2 linked regions of the Homo sapiens genome follow. The protein of the gene in region 1 interacts with the protein of each later gene in a biochemical or structural test. Each region holds a gene or a part of one and is shown on either strand. Other genes may lie near its edges.

Evidence for each region.
Region 2: the proteins of DNTTIP2 (region 1) and ESR2 form a complex in vitro, tested with the Homo sapiens proteins (one study listed by BioGRID).

What each region holds. Positions count from the first base shown.
Region 1 is NC_000001.11:93,865,733-93,869,455, reverse strand, and holds the end of DNTTIP2 (deoxynucleotidyltransferase terminal-interacting protein 2), read left to right. Parts: 3' UTR 1-3,172; downstream 3,173-3,723. UniProt on the Homo sapiens protein: Regulates the transcriptional activity of DNTT and ESR1. May function as a chromatin remodeling protein. Part of the small subunit (SSU) processome, first precursor of the small eukaryotic ribosomal subunit.
Region 2 is NC_000014.9:64,256,140-64,263,439, reverse strand, and holds part of ESR2 (estrogen receptor beta), read left to right. Parts: intron 1-2,691; coding exon 2,692-2,991; intron 2,992-6,024; exon of another isoform or gene 6,025-6,075; coding exon 6,076-6,214; intron 6,215-7,300.

The sequences.
Region 1 (3,723 bases):
TTTATGTGTGTATGTGTGTGTGTGTCTGTGTAGGGGACGGGAGATGGTAGAGAGGCAATGCCCTATAGTTAGCTATAAAATTCAGATCCAGAAAGTTGGGATACAAAGATATGAAGAATATGACCTAGAAAGCTTGGGCAGAGGAGCTGTTTTCCTTGCTTGGCAACTGAAACAGGGAGGAATAATTGGTTTTTATCTAGATTTAAGTGTTGTGGTCCAAGTAAAACAGGATTAAACTATAATTTAAGTTGGCCAGGGTTTCTTCGAAGTTAACCCAGCTTACCTCTTCTCCAGTGGTACAGTATGCACCCTGGCTAAGCTGGTTTCTGGCACCCAAGGAGTGTTGGTCATTTCTGTTGATACTTGGTGAGTTGTAGCTTCCTTTATGTTACTATTCACTTTACCTCTATTTTTCCAGCATACTGCTTCCTTGAGATATCAGCAAATATGAAATCTTTTTTTTTTTTAATAATAGTTTTGGGGTACATGTGTAGAACATGCAGGTTACATAGGTATACACGTGCCATGGTGGTTTGCTGCACCCATCAACCTATCTACATTAGGTATTTCTCCTAGTGCTATCCCTCCCCTAGTCCCCCACCCACAACAGGCCCCAGTGTGTGATGTTCCCCTCCCTGTGTCCATGTGTTCTCATTGTTTACCTCCCACTTACGAGTAAGAACATGCAGTGTTTGGTTTTCTGTTCTTGTGTTAGTTTTCTGTTCTTGCTGAGATGATTTCCAGCTTCAGCCATGTCCCTGCAAAGGACATGAACTCATGCTTTTTTATGGCCACATAGTATTCCATGGTGTATATGTGCCACATTTTCTTTATCCAGTCTATCATTCATGGGCATTTGGGTTGGTTCCAAGTCTTTTCTATTGTGAACAGTGCCACAGTAAACATACTTGTGTATGTGTCTTTATAGTAGAATGATTTATAATCCTTTGGGTATATACCCAGTAATGGGATTGCTGGGTCAAATGGTATTTCTGGTCCTAGATCCTTGCGGAATCACCACACTGTCTTCCACAATGGTTGAACTAGTTTACACTCCCACCAACAGTGTAAAAGTGTTCCTAGTTCTCCATATCCTCTCCAGCATCTGTTGTTTCCTGACTTTTTAATGATTGCCATTCTAACTGGCAATGAGATGGTATCTCATTGTGGTTTTGATTTGCATTTCTCTAATGAGCAGTGATAATGAGCGTTTTTTCATGTTTGTTGGCTGCATAAATGTCTTCTTTTGAGAAGTGTCTGTTCATATCCTTCACCCACTTTTTGATGGGGTTTTTTCTTGTAAATTTGTTTAAGTTCTTTGTAGATTCTGGATATTAGCCCTTTGTCAGATGGATAGATTACAGAAATTTTCTCCCATTCTGTAGATTGCCTGTGCACTCTGATAATAGTTTCTTTTGCTGTGCAGAAACTCTTTAGTTTAATTAGATCCCACTTGTCAATTTTGCCTTTTGTTGCCATTGCTTTTGGTGTTTTAGTCATGCAGTCTGCCCATACCTATGTCCAAAATCTCATATTTACTGCTTGGAGTCAAAAGCTAGTAATAGCAGAACTGACAATAACATTCATAGTTGGAGTTAGGGAAGCATCTATGTCTGTTCTCTTTTATTTTAAAAAAAAACTACTTTTGTTTCTGGAATACTATGTTTTGCCTTCTACTGGATAAAATAAGGACCCAGTATGAGAGAATTGTATCCTTTAGTGCTTCTGGCCTTCTACAAATACCTGGATATTTAAATAATGGATGAAGTTATGTTTTGCTTTTTAATAAGCAAGTCTTTTGAGAAACAGGTTTTACTGACTTTGGCCTGTGTCACTAAACTCAGTTCACCTACTGGAACTTTTTTTTTTTTTTTTGAGACGTCTCACTCCATCACCCAGGTTGGAGTGCAGTGGTGCCATCTCAGCTCACTGCAACCTCCGCCTCCCAAGTTCAAGCGATTATCATACCTCAGCCTGCCAAGTAGCTGGGACTACTGGGCATGCCATTATGCCCAGCTAACTTTTGTATTTTTAGTAGAGATGGGGTTTTGCCATCCTTACCTCAAGTGATCCACCCGCCTCGGCCTCCCAAAGTGCTGGGATTACAGGTGTGAGCCACCATGCCCAGCCAACTGGAACTATTTGAAGGCTTTATACCAGAAAAGTATAAAGAATCCAAAGGGCTGCCACAGTCAGGTGTGCTGGTGAAAGAGACCTTCAAGATACCCCTGAGAAGATCTTGAAAGATTTCGAAAAGAATGCTGTATTTATACACCATCTGGCTCCAAGATGCTTTTTTTTTTTTTTTTTTTGAGAGACGGACTCTCGCTCTGTCGCCCAGGCTGGAGTGTAGTGGCATGATCTTGGTTCACTGCAACCTCCGCCTCCCGGGTTCAAGCAATTCTGCCTCAGCCTCCCAAGTACCTGGGATTAACAGGCACCCACCACCACACCCGGCTAATTTTTGTATTTTTAGTAGAGACGGGGTTTCACCATGTTGGCCAGGCTGGTCTTGAACTTCTGACCTCAGGTGATCCACCGGCCTCAGCCTCCCAAAGTGCTGGGATTACAGGCAGGAGCCACCACGTCTGGCCCAAAATGTTCTTAAAACAAAGTAGATGCTGTAAGACTACAGTTGATAAAGTTGGGCTCTGGGCTAGGTTCTTAGCATCCAACACAATCAGTTCTGTGTTCAGTGTTCTGCTGTATGATAAACCAACTGCTCTAGAGAAACACCAATATTCCTCTTCTGAAACCTGGGAAAATGTCTTTTTTGGGTCCCATAACTAGATGTCACAAAAGGAGTGGGGAGTGGGGAGGCTATATAAAAAAGTTCAACAAAACCTTAGTAACTGGTATACATTAATAGGATCCCATTCTTAGAAACAGCAAGTTAAAGAAAATACCATAATGGGAAAAAAAAGTTAACATTTCTGAGAGATGTACCAGGTATTCAGTCTCTCAGGCAGTGACAACTTGTTCAGAATAATTACCTACAATAGATCCCAAACCATTGAAAAATGCCTAATTGTTTACTTAATGGAATTTGTACTTACTATTTAATTAGATGAATATCTTTATTGAAAGTTTTCAGTAAGGGTTGCAACAAAAAGGGCTTTCTAATTAACCAATTCCCCAAGCATCTGTCTAATTAAAATGTAAAGTGCAATTATTCTCATTGTCACATAGTTTTTGAAGTGAAGAAAAATCTTCCAAGAAGTAGGATCAATACCATGACCTATAATTAAATGTCATAAGCGGATCAGTGTTCTATCACTGGAGAAATGAGACATCTCCAATGAACTATGAAATGTAAAATTAGGTAAGTTTGTGCATAGAGGATTTCTAGGAGGACATACAAGACATACCTTCAAATCAAGATGGCCCTGTAGTTCCTCAAGCTCAATTTTATCAATTCCAGTTACCCTCATTTCCAGTTCACTTTAGCGAATCACTATCATGGCCTTAGACTCGTTGTTTGAGAATTCAGTGGTCAAGATTCTTAACTCAGACTACCCCAATTTGTATCTTGTTATCTGTTATCCTGTTAGTCTTCCCTTCAGTTGTCTCCAACTTAGCCTTGGCTGCAATTTGGAATTACCTATGGTGGCTTCAAAATGCTGATGCCTGGGTCTCACCCCCCAAACATTGTGAAATCATGATTTCAAGCCTTTCAGCCACTCATTCTCTGAATCCTCTATCCTCATGAAGATACATTTTTCT
Region 2 (7,300 bases), on another chromosome or scaffold:
GGTGATCCGCCCACCTTGGCCTCCCAAATTGCTGGGATTACAGGCATGAGCCAGCGCACCTGGCCTTTGTTGTTTTGAAGTATATGAGTTTAGAATTATTTATCTTTTTAAAATATTCTAGCGATGAGTCTCCTTATCTATAATAATAATTTTTGCCTTAAAGTTTATTTGTCTGGTATCAATAGAGTAATGTCAATTTATTTGGTTAATTTTGCCTGTTAAATATTTTTCTATCTGTCTACTTTGTTTTTCTATATGTTAGGTATATCTCTTACACCTAATCTATGTCTAGATTTAAAAATATGTATAATTTCAGAGTCACTCTTAAATGGTCAATTTGGTATTTTTTGTTTATTGTGATAACTGATATTTGGGTTCATTTCTATCATCTTATTTTTTGATTTAAAAAATTTTATTATGTATTTTCTACTTCTTCCCTTTTAGGAGTTGATCACATTTTTATGTTTTCTTTTTCTTCTTTTGCTAGTTTAAAAGTCATACATTCTGTTTCAATTCCCTTTTATCTTTTGAGACAGAGTCTCGCTGTGTCACCCAGGCTGGAGTGCAGTGGTGTGATCTTGGCTCACTGCAGCCTCTGCCTCCCAGGTTCAAGTGATTCTCCTGCCTCACCTTCCTAAACAGCTAGGATTACAGGCATTTGCCACCATGCCCAGCTAATTTTTGTATTATTAGTAGAGATGGGGTTTCACCATGCTGCCCAGGTTGGTCTTGAACTCCTGGCCTCAAGTGATCCGTCCCCTCCCGCCCCACCCGCCGAAACCACCTTTGGCCTCCTAAAGTTCTGGGATTACAAGTGTGAGCCACCATGTTTGGCCATGTTTCAATTCCTTTAATGACGTTTATGTTTTGTAACGTGTTCTTGATTAATTTGAGAATTTAAGCTTCTATCTTCCCAAAAAAGAATCTTAGAAATTCTAACCAAAATCATTCCTCTCTGATTTTGCATGTTATTGTTTGTTATTTTGGTTCCACCTTGTTTCTATATCACTAAAACTTAATTCTTGGGCCGGATGTGGTGGCTTATGCCTGTAATCCCAGCACTTTCAGAGGCCAAGGCAGGAGGATCACTTGAGCCCAGGAATTCGAGACCAGCCTGGGCAACATGGTGAGACCCTGTCTTTACAAAAAATACAAAAATTAGTCAGATGTGGTGGTGCACACTTGTAGTCCCAGCTATCCAGGAGGCTGAGGTGGGAGGATCTCTTGAGCCTGGGAGGTTGAGGCTGCAGTGAGCTGTGATCATGACTGTACCACCATACTTCAGCCTGGGTGACAGAGACCTTGTCTCTTAAAAAAAAAAAAAAAAAAGTAAATCCAAAGAACAAGCATATAAATCAACTTTGCTAGTAATTAAAACATACAAAGTAAAGCGAGATGGTTTAGTTAGATTAGCAAACATTAAAAATGATTTTTAATGCCCAATGGGTTCTGAGAAAACAGTCAAACTATTGAGGACTGGGTAACATAGTAAGACCCTAGTTCTACAAAAAAATTTAAAAGTTAGCTGGGCATGGTGGCATATTCCTGTAGTCCCAGCTACTCAGGAGGCTGAGGCAGGAGGATTGCTTGAGTCCAGGAGATGAAGGCTGCAGTGAGCTATGATTGCATCATTACACTCCAGCTTGGGCAACAGAGCAGGACTCTGTCTCAAAAATACAATTAAAATAGTGTAGATACTACAATCTAATTTTGTGTATAAAGGCTGGGTGCAGTGGCTCACGCCTGTAATCCCAGCACTTTGGGAGGCCAAGATGGGCAGATCACTTGAGAATCAGGAATTTGAGAGCAGCCTGGCCAACATGGTGAAATCACATCTCTACTAAAAATATAAAAATTAGCCAGGCATGGTGGCGGGCTCCTGTAATCCCAGCTACTTGGGAGGCTAAGGCAGGAGAATCGCTTGAACCCGGGAGGCTGAAGTTGCAGTGAGCCAAGAATGTGCCACTGAACTGCAGCCTGGGTGACAGAGTGAGACTCCGTCTCAAAAATAAATAAATAATTTTGTGTATAAAACGTGGAAAAATATGGTGGCAGGCACCCATAGTCCTAGCTACTCGGGAGGCTGAGGCAGGAGAATGGCGTGAACCCGGTAGGCGGAGCTTGCAGTGAGCCGAGATCACACCACTGCACTCCAGTCTAGGCCACAGAGCAAGGCTCCGTCTCAAAAAAAAAAAAAAAAGAAAAAAGAAAAATAAAAGCATTAAAAAGACTGAAAGAGTTTATGCCAAAATTTATTCTCTTCTATATTTTTCAGATTTTTTCACTTAATTTGTTATTTGAAATATACTTGTTTTGTGTAAGTATAAGGAAATATATACATATGCACACATGCATATAAACATTTTAAGAATGTGTTATAATAAAAGTATATTATTTGATACCTTTGGAAATATCCCCATTTTTCTACCTGAAGAAAATTCCTAATTTCATGGTTTGGAAACAGGTTTATGAGCACTCTTTATAGAGAAACGGTGTTAGTATCTATAGATGACCTGGAAATGGAGACCTAAAAAGTTTCTGAAAAGTTATGTCGTTGGTTTTGCTAGTACGGTCACGACCATAGTAATCTTTGGTACGTGCCCCACAGGCTCCAGAAAATAAAAGTCAAGCTGCTTTTGCTTGACTGCGGTTTTACCCTGGCAATTCGAATGACTCTGCTTTCCTCTTCAGGCTCCCGGAGAGAGAGATGTGGGTACCGCCTTGTGCGGAGACAGAGAAGTGCCGACGAGCAGCTGCACTGTGCCGGCAAGGCCAAGAGAAGTGGCGGCCACGCGCCCCGAGTGCGGGAGCTGCTGCTGGACGCCCTGAGCCCCGAGCAGCTAGTGCTCACCCTCCTGGAGGCTGAGCCGCCCCATGTGCTGATCAGCCGCCCCAGTGCGCCCTTCACCGAGGCCTCCATGATGATGTCCCTGACCAAGTTGGCCGACAAGGAGTTGGTACACATGATCAGCTGGGCCAAGAAGATTCCCGGTAGGGCTTTCTGGCTATCAGTTTTCCATGTACTTGTAGAAAGGCCGGCCGCTAATATTTAAGGGGCAAGAGTACAAAGTAGAGGTCCATGAGCTGTGCCTAGATATTTAACAGGTCCTCAGCTGGATTTGTAACTTTTAAGTGCAATATGTTCCTTCCTTCTGTCTTGGCATACCTACCTTCAACAAGGCCGTGTTCTGATTTAGAATTCTGAGACTCTTCTGAGTTCTGTACCCAACATGGTAGTGCAGAAAGAGTTGTGCGTGGCCCAGCCATTTCTATTCTTGACTGCCTTCTTTTCCCATGGCTAGATGCATCCCATACCACCTTGCACAAACCCTATCCTGTGTGTCCACATCTGCTACAGACACTCACCTGTTGGCCACCTCTCATGCCTAGAGGTGGTCTGGGAGGATGGACCCAGGGAACCTACCTAGGCTCTGGAATTGGGCTTGGGGTCATTTGGGCAAGAATCCTAGAGTCCTGGAACCTGGAACGTGGTTAAAATGATAGACTCCACATTGACCCATTTCTTGGCTGTGGATTCCTCACCTTGAAAGGAGGGGTGGGGTAGAGTACAGTATGACTAGTTTGAAAGTGAAAGGTTTGTCAGATGCTAAATAGAATTTTGTAAATTATTGTTCCAGTAGAGAATCAATATTATGTACATAAATGAATATGTATGGACAAACAGAGTAAATCAGTGGTTGAAGTTACACGAATCATCAATGGGCCCATAAACCTGGAATGCCATCAAGTTAAAAATGAGCTTAGTTACTCATGAGTTGTCACTTGGAACCTGCGTTTTCCATCCTCCAAAGTGATCACTTCTCTCAAGCCCATTTGTAATATATATCTGAAGTGCTGTATGATGCTAAAATTACCAGCTAATTATCATTTGACTTGGTGTTTCTGTGGAGGAGTGAATCTAGGATTCTAACCTAGAGTGGCAACACCCCACGATCCCCCTGTGACAGCTTCTCCATGCTGTTCTTTACAGTCCTTGAAGAAATGAAGTCTCTTATAAGTTCTGAGCCACTGGGGGCATTCCCATGGCCTGGAGGGCAGCGACTGCACTGGGCAAGCTGTAAAGATGAGGAGGGGTGAGAAGCTGGGGGAAGAGAAGTTTTGGGTAAAGAGCCTGGGGAACTGAGGCCTATGGTGACAGTATCATTTGGGGACTTTTGTTGGCCTGGGCCCATTTCTTCTGAGCTTCCTGAGGATTTTTGGTTTCTAGTTGTATTTTGTTTTGTCTAGCATCTTCACCTTTGCCAGAATTATTTTATTTTCTCTGCTTTTTCCCAGGGGAGGCAATACTGATGCACTTTCCTCTAGTTTTTGCTTTAAATGTATTCCAAACACGATTTTGCAGGACCACACATGGAGAGCAGTGGTGAAATTAATTATTGCTGAAAGCTGTGCACCTTCTTTGTGCCATAAGAAATCTGAACTCTTAAACTGCATTATTCCTTATTCAAGCCTGGTGTTTTGAAAAGTTTTCAGGAAACGTAGACATAATCTGAAGGCGTGATTTTTTTTCTCCTCTCTTAGCTGGCATAGTCATTGTCCAAACCAAAAAATATATATTAAAATATCATCTAGCCTTGATCTTGTTGAATATCTACAAGATTAAGAACCGTGATCTCTCTTGGGTAGGCTTATTGTCAATCACTATGGGTGAGACTGGGAAGGTATATACACATTAGGAACCTAAACTGAGCAAAGCATGTGGATTTAGAAAGTATTTATCCATCTTTACATTCATAACACCATTACATTCTCCTTGAGGCAGATTTGCGTTATAATTGTTCAAAGACTTGAACCATGTGTGTTCTCTCTGCTGTAGTTTCCTCATCTGTAAAACAAGAATGATAAGAGATCCTGCCTATAAGACATTCTCAGAGATAGGCATTGTTACCCCCATTTTCCTATAAGAAAAACAAAGACTTAATGGGAGATTAAGTGAACAGCTAGAAAGAGGCTGAGCTGGGGTTCGAACCAGAGTCCATTTCACTCCAAGGCGGTGTCTTTTGTTATCATATTTATATTACATGGCCCTCTCTTTTTATCATGGCTTGTGAAGGAAGCCCCGGTGTTCTCTGCTTTGCTTTTGAAGTGCTTCCCTCCCCAGAGATTACCTGTTTGCAAACAGTACTGTGACCAACATGGGTTATTAGGTTGTCAGGACCTGCTTCGTTATTATATTTGCTCTTTATTTATTTATTTATTTATTTATTTTTGAGACAGGGTCTCGCTCTGTTGCCCAGGCTGGAGTGCAGTGGCGTGATCTCAGCTCACTACAGCCTCGACCTCCTGGGCTCAGGCGATCATCCCACTTCAGCCTCCAGAGTATCTGGGACTACAGGCACCTGCCACCATGACCAGATAATTTTCTGTAGAGATGGGGTTTCTCCATGTTGGCCAGGCTGGTCTCAAACTCCTGGGTGCAGGCAATCCACCCACCTTGACCTCCCAAAGTGCTGGGATTACAGGTGTGCTTGGCTATATTTGCTGTTTAGGATAGAATCACCCAGAAACAGTGCTTCTACCCAGAAGAAGGATCTTAACACTGGATAGGAAATTTTAATCAATCAGAGAAATCCTTGCAGTTGAGGCCTTGGTTTTCTGTGAGGGCTGGCACTGCTCTCTGCAAGCCTCCAACCCCAACCTCCACCTACCCCATCCCCCACCTACCCCATCCCCCACCCCTTCTGATCCCAGTCAAGGATTGGGTCAGACAGGCAGGTCTTCTGACTGGCAGCCAAGCATCAACATTCTCAGTAGTGCAGAGGAATTATCAGGACACAGCTAACAAAGATCAGTTCTGAGCCGAGGTCGTAGTGCTTGACAAACTCTAAATGAAGTATATTTGTCTCTAGAAGGGGTCCAAGACTGGAAACTAAGTTGCGCAGCTTAACTTCAAAGTTTTCTTCCTTTAATGAGCAGTTAATCACATCTATAAAATATCAACTCCCTAATGGTTTGTGTTTTCTTAGTGTTTTAACACTTGCCATTCTGTCTCTACACACACAGGGAGCTGAGGAGGAGGGGTGGGGGTGTCTCACCGCCTCTTGCTTTCCCCAGGCTTTGTGGAGCTCAGCCTGTTCGACCAAGTGCGGCTCTTGGAGAGCTGTTGGATGGAGGTGTTAATGATGGGGCTGATGTGGCGCTCAATTGACCACCCCGGCAAGCTCATCTTTGCTCCAGATCTTGTTCTGGACAGGTGAGAAAAAATACATTGTGTTTCTTCTCTGACTTGTTTGAGTAAGGTGCTTAGTGAGTGGGAACAAAGTCCTGGGTGCTGCAATTAAAATCTCACACTTGCAGGGCAGAGGATGATAGCATCATCAGCTCCTTCACTGGGTCAAGAACCAGAGAAGGAGAGAGTTGGGTCCAAGGATTCAGGGTCCTGTGACTCATTTTTAATCTGTGGTGCAGCAGCATTTACAGGCCAGCGCTTTAATAGGGGACTGTATCCCGTAGGTATGTGGCCACTATGTGTATAAGTCGACACAGATTTTTCTCCATTAAAAATTCCATTTTCAGGTTATAATCTTAAGTTGTCCTGCTGTTTTTTGTACCTATAGTGACCAATTATATCTGGAGCTTTCTGGACAGGTGATAAAATTCTTAGAAATGTGCCAAGTTTATTTTCACATGCTTTAACTCACTCTTTTGTTTTTTTTTGTTTTGTTTTGTTTTGTTTTTTGTTTTTTTTCTGAGATGGAGTCTCTCTCTGTTGCTCAGGCTGGAGTGCAGAGGTGCAATCTTGGCTCACTGCAACCTCCGCCTACCGGATTCAAGTGATCCTGCTGCCTCAGCCTCTCAAGTAGTTGGGATCACAGGTGTCCACCACCATGCCAGGCTAATTTTTCTATTTTTAGTAGAGAAGTGGTTTCACCATGTTGGCCAGGCTGGTCTTGAACTCCTGACCTCAGGCGATCTGCCCACCTCAGCTTCCCAAAGCGCTGGGATTACAGGCGTGAGCCACCATGCCCGATCTGCTTTAACACATTCTAATGCATGTACTATATAGCATTTTTGGCAATAGCGGTGGAAGGAAGGGTTACTAAAACTATATGAAACTTAACAGAAAATGGGACATGATGCTGTATCTTGGTTGTGTTTGATTTTCTTTTAAAGATGACACAGAAAAGGAAACAATTTTTAATTGACTTAGGTGAACTGTTTATGGAGGGAAAGCTGGACTGTATAAAAATACTCAAGCTTTTTAGCAGGAAAGTAGAACACCCTCTTGGTGTAAATTCGAGCAGTTCGAAATCTTCTTGGAAATTGATTTCCACATCTC